Homo sapiens: one gene and its partner. The protein of the gene in region 2 purifies or fractionates together with the protein of the main gene of each other region. This does not show direct contact. Each region holds a gene or a part of one and is shown on either strand. Other genes may lie near its edges. The genes, in order: PRR14L and ANKK1.

Region 1 (3,819 bases), on a different chromosome or scaffold from region 2:
GTCAGGAGTTCCAGACCAGAATGGCCAACATGGTGAAACCCTGTCTCTACTAAAAATCCAAAAAATTAGCTGGGCATGTTGGCGAACGCCTGTAATCCCAGCTACTTGGGAGGCTGAGGCAGGAGAATCGCTTGAACCTGGAAGGCGGAGGCTGCAGTGACCTGAGATGGGGCCACTGCACTCCAGACTGGGTGACACAGTGAGACCCTGCCTCGAAAAAAAAAAAAAAGAACCTGACCTTGACCCCAACCTTTCTTTCAATTCCTAACCTACATTTCACTTGCAAGAATGGCACCCCCAAAACTTACCAAGTTTAAAACAGAATTCATTCAATCTATTGAATAACTGAGTCTTTGAGTCTTTCTACACGCAAACAGCTTTGAGAAACAGGTATAAATAAGACGCCCTCAGCAAACTTACATGCTCATTCATTAAAAAAAAAAAAAAAAAGACAGGGTCTTGCTGTGTCGCCCAGGCTGGAGTGTGGTGGTGCGATCATAGCTCACTATAACCTTGAACTCCTTCTGCCTCAGCATGCCTGGTTAATTTTTTTTTTTTTTTTGGGATGGAGTTTCGCTCTTGTTGCCCAGGCTGGAGTGCAACAGTGCGATCTTAGCTCACCACAATCTCCACCTCCCAGGTTCAAGAGATTCTCCCGCCCCAGCCTCCTGAGTAGCTGGGATTACAGGCATTTGCCACCACACCCAGCTAATTTTGTATTTTTTAATAGAGATGGGGTTTCTCTATGTTGGTCAGGCTGATCTCAAACTCCCAACCTCAGGTGATCAGTCCGCCTTGGTCTCCCAAAGTGCTGGGATTACAGGCGTGAGCCACTATGCCCGGCCTACTTTTTTATTTTTGTAGATAATTTTGTATGTCTTGTTATGTTGCCCAGGCTGGTCTCAAACTCCTGGGTTCAAGCAATCCTCCCACCTCAGCCTCCCAAAAGTGCTGGAATTACAAGCGTGAGCCACTGTGACTAGCCACATGCTGATTCTTAATCCTGTTGCTTCTCAGAAAAGGCACCATCAATATTCTAGAGCTTAGATTTGAATCCCCAGCCATAACCATATCTGACTTCCCCTCACCATTCAATCAGCACTTGCAGCCTGTGGACTCAACTCCCTGCAGTGTTTCTAGTAAATCATATTCATTTCCATCCCCACAGTTCTAGCTCAACATTTGTTCCAAATGTTGCTCCACATACGGTCATACACAAATACAGGTTTACTAAACAGATCTTTATCATAAACAGTGAATACTGATAATCACATAAAATGGTTCACCTCTTGATACTCTTGTTTGGACCAAATTCTAAGAATTTCAACCTGTAAAACAACTAGGCACATTGGCTAGAGAACCAAAACAGACACCCCCTCCTTTTTCTCCTGGACTAATTCTGGGTCCTCAAATTTCTGAACAGAATTGCAGATACGTTACCAAGAACAGCTGGAACCCTAAGAGGTGAGGTGATATTAAATGCAAGCCTAGAGTGGCAGGTTAAACATGGCCGGGTGCTTTGGCTCACGCCTGTAATCCCAGCACTTTGGGAGGACAAGGCAGGCGGATCACGAGGTCAGGAGATCGAGACCATCCTGGCTAACACAGTGAAACCCTGTCTCTACTAAAAATACAAAAAATTAGCCGGGTGTGGTGAGGGGCGCCTGTAGTCCCAGCTACTCGGGAGGCTGAGGCAGGAGAATGGCATGAACCTGGGAGGCAGAGTTTGCAGTGAGCGGAGATTGTGCCACTGCACTCCAGCCTGGGCGACAGAGCGAGACTCCGTCTCAAAAAATAAAAAATAAAAAATAAAAATAAACTTATTTTCAGCTCAGTAGCTCACACCATCTATCAAAATATTGGTAATGCCACAAGACTGCAGTGACAGAACCCGATTTTGAGAAGACATTCAAGTTCTTTAAATTCCTGAATGCAATGGAGCAATCTAAAAGGATGATGTAGAAATACATCTCTACAGCCGGGCGTGGTGGCTCATGCCTGTAATACCAGCACTTTGGGAGGCTGAGGCGGGTAGATCACTTGAGGTCAGGAGTTCAAGACCAGCCTGGCCAACATGGTGAAACCCTATCTCTACTAAAAAATGCAAAAATTAGCTGGGCGTGGTGGCAGGAGCCTGTAATCTCAGCTACTTGGGAGGCTAAGGCACGAGAATCGCTTGAACCTGGGAGGCAGAGGTTGCAGCGAGCAGAGATCGCGCCATTGCACTTCAGCCTGGGTGAGAGGGAGACTCAGTTTAAAAAAAAAAAAAAAAAAATATATATATATATATAAGCCAAGTATCACAGTGTTACCTTGGACAATAGGATCACCAATGACTTATCTGTATGTTGAACTTTTTTTTTTGGAGATAGGGTCTCTGTGGCCCAGGCTGGAATGCAGTGGCTTGATCACAGCTCTCTATAACTTCAAACTCTGGACTCAAGCAATCCTCCTGCCTCAGCCTCCTAAGCAGCCAGGACTACAGGCGCGAGGCAGTGAACCCAGCAAATATTTTTATTTCTTGTAGAGACAAGGTCTCACTACATTGCACAGGCTGGTCTTGAGCTCCTGGCCTCAAGTGATCCTCCCACCTCGGCCTCCCAGAGTGAGCTGCTGCACCCAGCCTTGTACTTATTTTTCAAAACAGTGAGTATATATTACATATGTTAAAATGTTGTCTAACCATTATTTCTCAAGATCTAAACACACAGCAATAAAAACAGCTGATAAGTGTATTTTCAGTATTTTTTATCAGTATGTTTTATCAGTATTTTTCCAGCTGTCAGCTCTCTGCCTTAACCACCAATGCTTTTACATTAAAGTGTTAAATGTGAAGTAAAAGGGAAGAGTGAGTAACACATGCTTATAAAATGTAGACAGGGATTTACAGCTTAATCTTTGCTAATGACTTATAATCAACCTATTGGGTGAGGATACCAGATAATTACCTAGTTTGAGGTATAAGCAAAAAATAAACCATAGATTTATGAACGACTTTTGACAGCTGCTACTGGCTTGTCGTCTTTATCACAACACAAATAAGTACTATATTAGAATGTGTAGGGAATGGATTTATTCCCAAAAACTGACTAATACTTACAGGAAGTATGAAAATTATTATTCCAGTAAAAGTAGAAATTCTTTTACGTTGAGGACAATTATTTCATGTTCTTTCTTTGCAAACGCACAAATACTTCTCCCAGCAGTCTTTTTTTTTTTTTTTTTTTGAGACGGAGTCTCACTCTGTTGCTCAGGCTGGAGCGCAGTGGCGCGATCTTGGCTCACTGCAAGCTCTGCCTCCCGGGTTCATGCCATTCTCCTGCCTCAGCCTCCCAAGTAGCTGGGACTACAGGTGCCCGCCACCACGCCTGGCTAATTTTTTTATTTTTTTTATTTTTAGTAGAGACGGGGTTTCACTGAGTTAGCCAGGATGGTCTTGATCTCCTGACCTTGTGATCCGCCCGCCTCGGCCTCCCAAAGTGCTGGGATTACAGGTGTGAGCCACCGCGCCTGACCCTCTCCCAGGAGTCTTTTTTTTTTGAGACAGAGTTTCACTCTTGTTTCCCAGGCTGGAGTGCAACAGCATGATCTCGGCTCACCGCAACCTCTGCCTCCCAGGTTCAAGCGATTCTCCTGCCTCAGCCTTCCTAGTAGCTGGGATTACAGGCATGTGCCACCATGCCCACCTAATTTGTTTTGTATTTTTAGTAAAGATGGAGTTTCTCCATGTTGGTCAGGCTGGTCTCAAACTCCCGACCTCAGGTGATCCACCCGCCTCGGCCTCCCAAAGTGCTGGGATTAGAGGCATGAGCCACCGCG
Region 2 (3,819 bases):
GTTGCAGTGAGCCAAGATCATGCCATTGCACTCCAGCCTGGGCAACAAAAGTGAGACTTGGTCTCAAAAAAAAAAAAAAACAAAGCAAAAAAAAGGCATGGAGGAGATGCATTCATTCCAAGCACTACGTGAAAAAAACAAAGTCCTTGCCCTCATGAAGCTTATAGTCTAAAGGAGGAAGACAAAATAAATAGCAAATGAATAATAAACTTTTTAGCTATAGCACTCATGACCACCTGACAGTTCTTGATTAAAATATCTAAGAAGGGTTGAGAAGTCTGATTTTCCAAGAAATGGGTTGGTCTAAAAATATTAATGCCAGGGCCCTCTGTGTATGGGGAATATAAGAGTTGGAATGGGGTTGCTTTTTTATGTAGACTTCTCTGTGAAATCCATACTAATTAGGTACCATTTGAGTAGAGATTTGAAGGAAATGAAGGGGTAATCCATGTGGCTCTGTTAGGGAGGAGTGTTCTAGGCAGAGAGAACAACAGGTGCAAAGGTCCTGAGGTGGGACCACACTGGGCATGGTGGAGGAACAGTGGGAAGCCCGTGTGCCAGGGGCACAATGAGAGGAGGGTGATTAGGAAAGGAGGTCAGCAAGCTATGCCTGGCATTGGGGACAAATCTTGTAGGACTTTCTCAGCCATGAAAGAACTTTGGCTTTTACTGTGAATGAGGAGAGCCATTGGAGAAGGGCAGTGACATGTTGTGACTTAGATTTTAAAATATGACTTTGGCTGCTGGGTTGAGAATAGATTGTGGAGAGGAAGCGGGAGAAACAGAGTCCAATTAGGAGGCTTGGGCTGAGATGCACCTTGGGGGAGAGGTGGTGAGAAGTGGTCAGCTTGTTGCTCGACAGTATTTTGAAGGTGGTGCTGGCAGGATTTGCGAAGACTTGGCTGTGGGAAGTGAGAGGAAGAAAGGAGTCGAAGATGACACCAGGGTCCTATTCTGAGGACTAGAAGGACAGAGGCCCCATTCACTGAAATGATGAAAACTAAAGGAAGAGCAGGTTTCAGGGGAAAATCAGGAGGTTAGCTTCAGACACATTTGGTATTGAATATCCAATTGGAGATGATGAGGTTGACTATAGAAAGATTATAGAGGGAGAAGAGCAGAGAAGAAGGGCTTGGACTAAGCCCCGTGGTCAAGTAACAGGATATGAGCCTGCAAAGAAAACAGAGAGGAAGTGACCAGACAAGTAGGAGAAAAGCAGGAGAATGTTGACACGTGGCTCAAGTAACGAAGTTTCAAGAAAAAGAGTCAGAGATCTGAACTATACACTGAGAACTGAAAATTATTGGTTAGATATAGCAACATAGAGGCTGTTGGTGACCTTAGCCACAGGTGTTCAGGGGAGTGCAGGTACCAGAAACTAGACAAAAGTGGGTGCAGCAAGATGATGAAGAGGAGAGACAGCAGTAAATGCTCTCAAGACTTCTGGGTAGGAAGCTATGAAAGAACTGTGCAAGGTAGTTACAATTATTCCCAGTTTTTAGTTTAGAAACTGAGGCCCAGAGGATTCCCTTGCCCAAGGTCATACAGATAATAACGGGTGAAACTGGGATTTGAAATCAGGGCAGTGTGATTCCCACATCCCATGCTTTTTTCCATGCCATGGCAGATGTCATTGGTTCCTGTGAACCCAAGAGGATGAGAGAAGACAGATTAAAAATATCACAGAGGTGGAGAAGGGATCTCTGGCACAAGTGAACAAGAATAGGAGAAACCTACACTAGCCAACATGTCCAGATGCCAGGAAGAGCATGTGGTTTTTCCTGAAGGTTGGGGCTCTCCAGCTGGCTTCCCAGGGAGACCCCGGGAGCACATTGCCAGCAGTCTCTGACTACAGCACCATCACAGTTTTGCAAATACTGTGCTCTCAAATATGTCATTTCTCCTTAATCCCCATCCCTGCAATCCCAAAATAATCTATAACAATTTTCATATTTACTGTTCTGTGGGCACATACAGTGAAATGAGCAACAGGGTTTGCAAATGCTTATTTTGTAAGGCCTTCCCTTAAGTTTCGACTTCTGTTCCAATTCAACAAAGATGTATTGTGCAATGCATGGCAATGCACTTTGGGAATTATAGAGATGAATAATTACAGTTCATCCATAAAATGGAATAGTGTGCAGCCACTAAAGATCATGCTTTGGAAGAACAGCAGTGTGGGGAAGTGCTCGTGCTCCACATACTATGTGATCCAAAAGGAGAGAGCAGAAAGAAGGAGTGAAAGAGAGGGAGAAAGGGAAAGAGATACCTTGAAGGTGGATAGTAAAAGGATATACTAAAATATCAACAGAGGCTAGCTCTGGAAGGTTGCATCCCTGGTAACTTATTTTTCTTTTATATAGCTCTCTATATTCCCTATGTTTCCTACAAGGTATATGTATTACTTCCATAATTTAAATGGTAATAAATGATGTTTTGAAGCAGAAGCATGAGGCATCATGTTGGTCCTCTGGGGGCTCAAAATCTACTAGGGGAGATAAACATAGAAACAAGCAACTAGAATAAAGGGCAAACTGTGATACCTGCTTTTTTGTGGCCACCTTTGCAGAATGGACTGGCTCCTAAACCTGCAAACTCCTTTACTTCCTGCCTTGTTGCTGCTGTACTGAAATCTAAGCGGCCTGCTAAGTATTGCTTCATGTCTCTCTTTCCTCTTCCACTACCTTGCAAGCTCCTGAGGCTTCTGTGGGTCCCCACAGTCTGGCATCATGGCTAGTTTATGTGTTCAGCTGGTTGCTGTAGTAATGAATGGGTCACCCCCTTCCATATCTTGCTCCCCCTCTCCATAGCTCTGATGTGAATTACCTCATTGAAGAAGCTGCCAAAATGAAGAAGATCAAGTTTCAGCACATCGTGTCTATCTACGGGGTGTGCAAGCAGCCCCTGGGTATTGTGATGGAGTTTATGGCCAACGGCTCCCTGGAGAAGGTGCTGTCCACCCACAGCCTCTGCTGGAAGCTCAGGTTCCGCATCATCCATGAGACCAGCTTGGCCATGAACTTCCTGCACAGCATTAAGCCGCCTCTGCTCCACCTGGACCTCAAGCCGGGCAACATACTCCTGGACAGCAACATGCATGTCAAAGTAAGGGCTCTGGCCAATCCTCCGCTCCCTTTCACTTGAGGGTTGCCTCCAGGTGAGCAGAATTATCCACCTGCCTGACCGGCCTGTCAAGGGTTTTAAGCAGTTCCCTTCATGGACAAATTCTAAAGGCAGGGATCACACTGCAATAGAGATGGCTAAGCAGTGAAATTTGGGGCATAAGGCTGGGTATCAGGATGCCTATAATAACCCTCTTTGGACTCAGTTTCCCATTTCTAAATTGGATAGAATAATCTCTATTTCCCTGCACTTTCTTTTATTTGGATGGAGACGTGTGTAAATGAGACAATCCCTAAGAAAGGTTGTAATGGACATTCTTTCACTTCCTAAAACTCTTTTTTGCCCCAGGACCTTTGCAGCTTCTGTTTCCCCACTCCCCTCTATTTACCTAGCGAAGGTCTACTCACTATTCAGCTTAACCATCACCTCCTCAGGGAGCTCTTCCCTGATCTACTCCAGTAGGTCCCCATTATATGCCTTCACTGTACCTCTGATTCTCCATATTACTAACCCCAACATAGGTATATAATCATTAGTGAAACACTTTCATTAATGACTGGACCCCCTATTTGAATAAGTATTTACGAGGATATGGAGTGTGTGTGTTGGCAGGGGGTGTCTCATTTTTCTTATCTGCTGCCCAGTCCTTGGTCCACAGCCTTCCTGGCCCTCAATGCATGGCCAACTTGACAAGTG

What was found.
Region 1: the proteins of ANKK1 (region 2) and PRR14L purify together in Homo sapiens (affinity purification with mass spectrometry; one large-scale study listed by BioGRID and IntAct). This does not show direct contact.

What each region holds. Positions count from the first base shown.
Region 1 is NC_000022.11:31,743,588-31,747,406, forward strand, and holds part of PRR14L (protein PRR14L), read right to left. Parts: intron 1-3,819.
Region 2 is NC_000011.10:113,390,671-113,394,489, forward strand, and holds part of ANKK1 (ankyrin repeat and protein kinase domain-containing protein 1), read left to right. Parts: intron 1-2,810; coding exon 2,811-3,105; intron 3,106-3,819.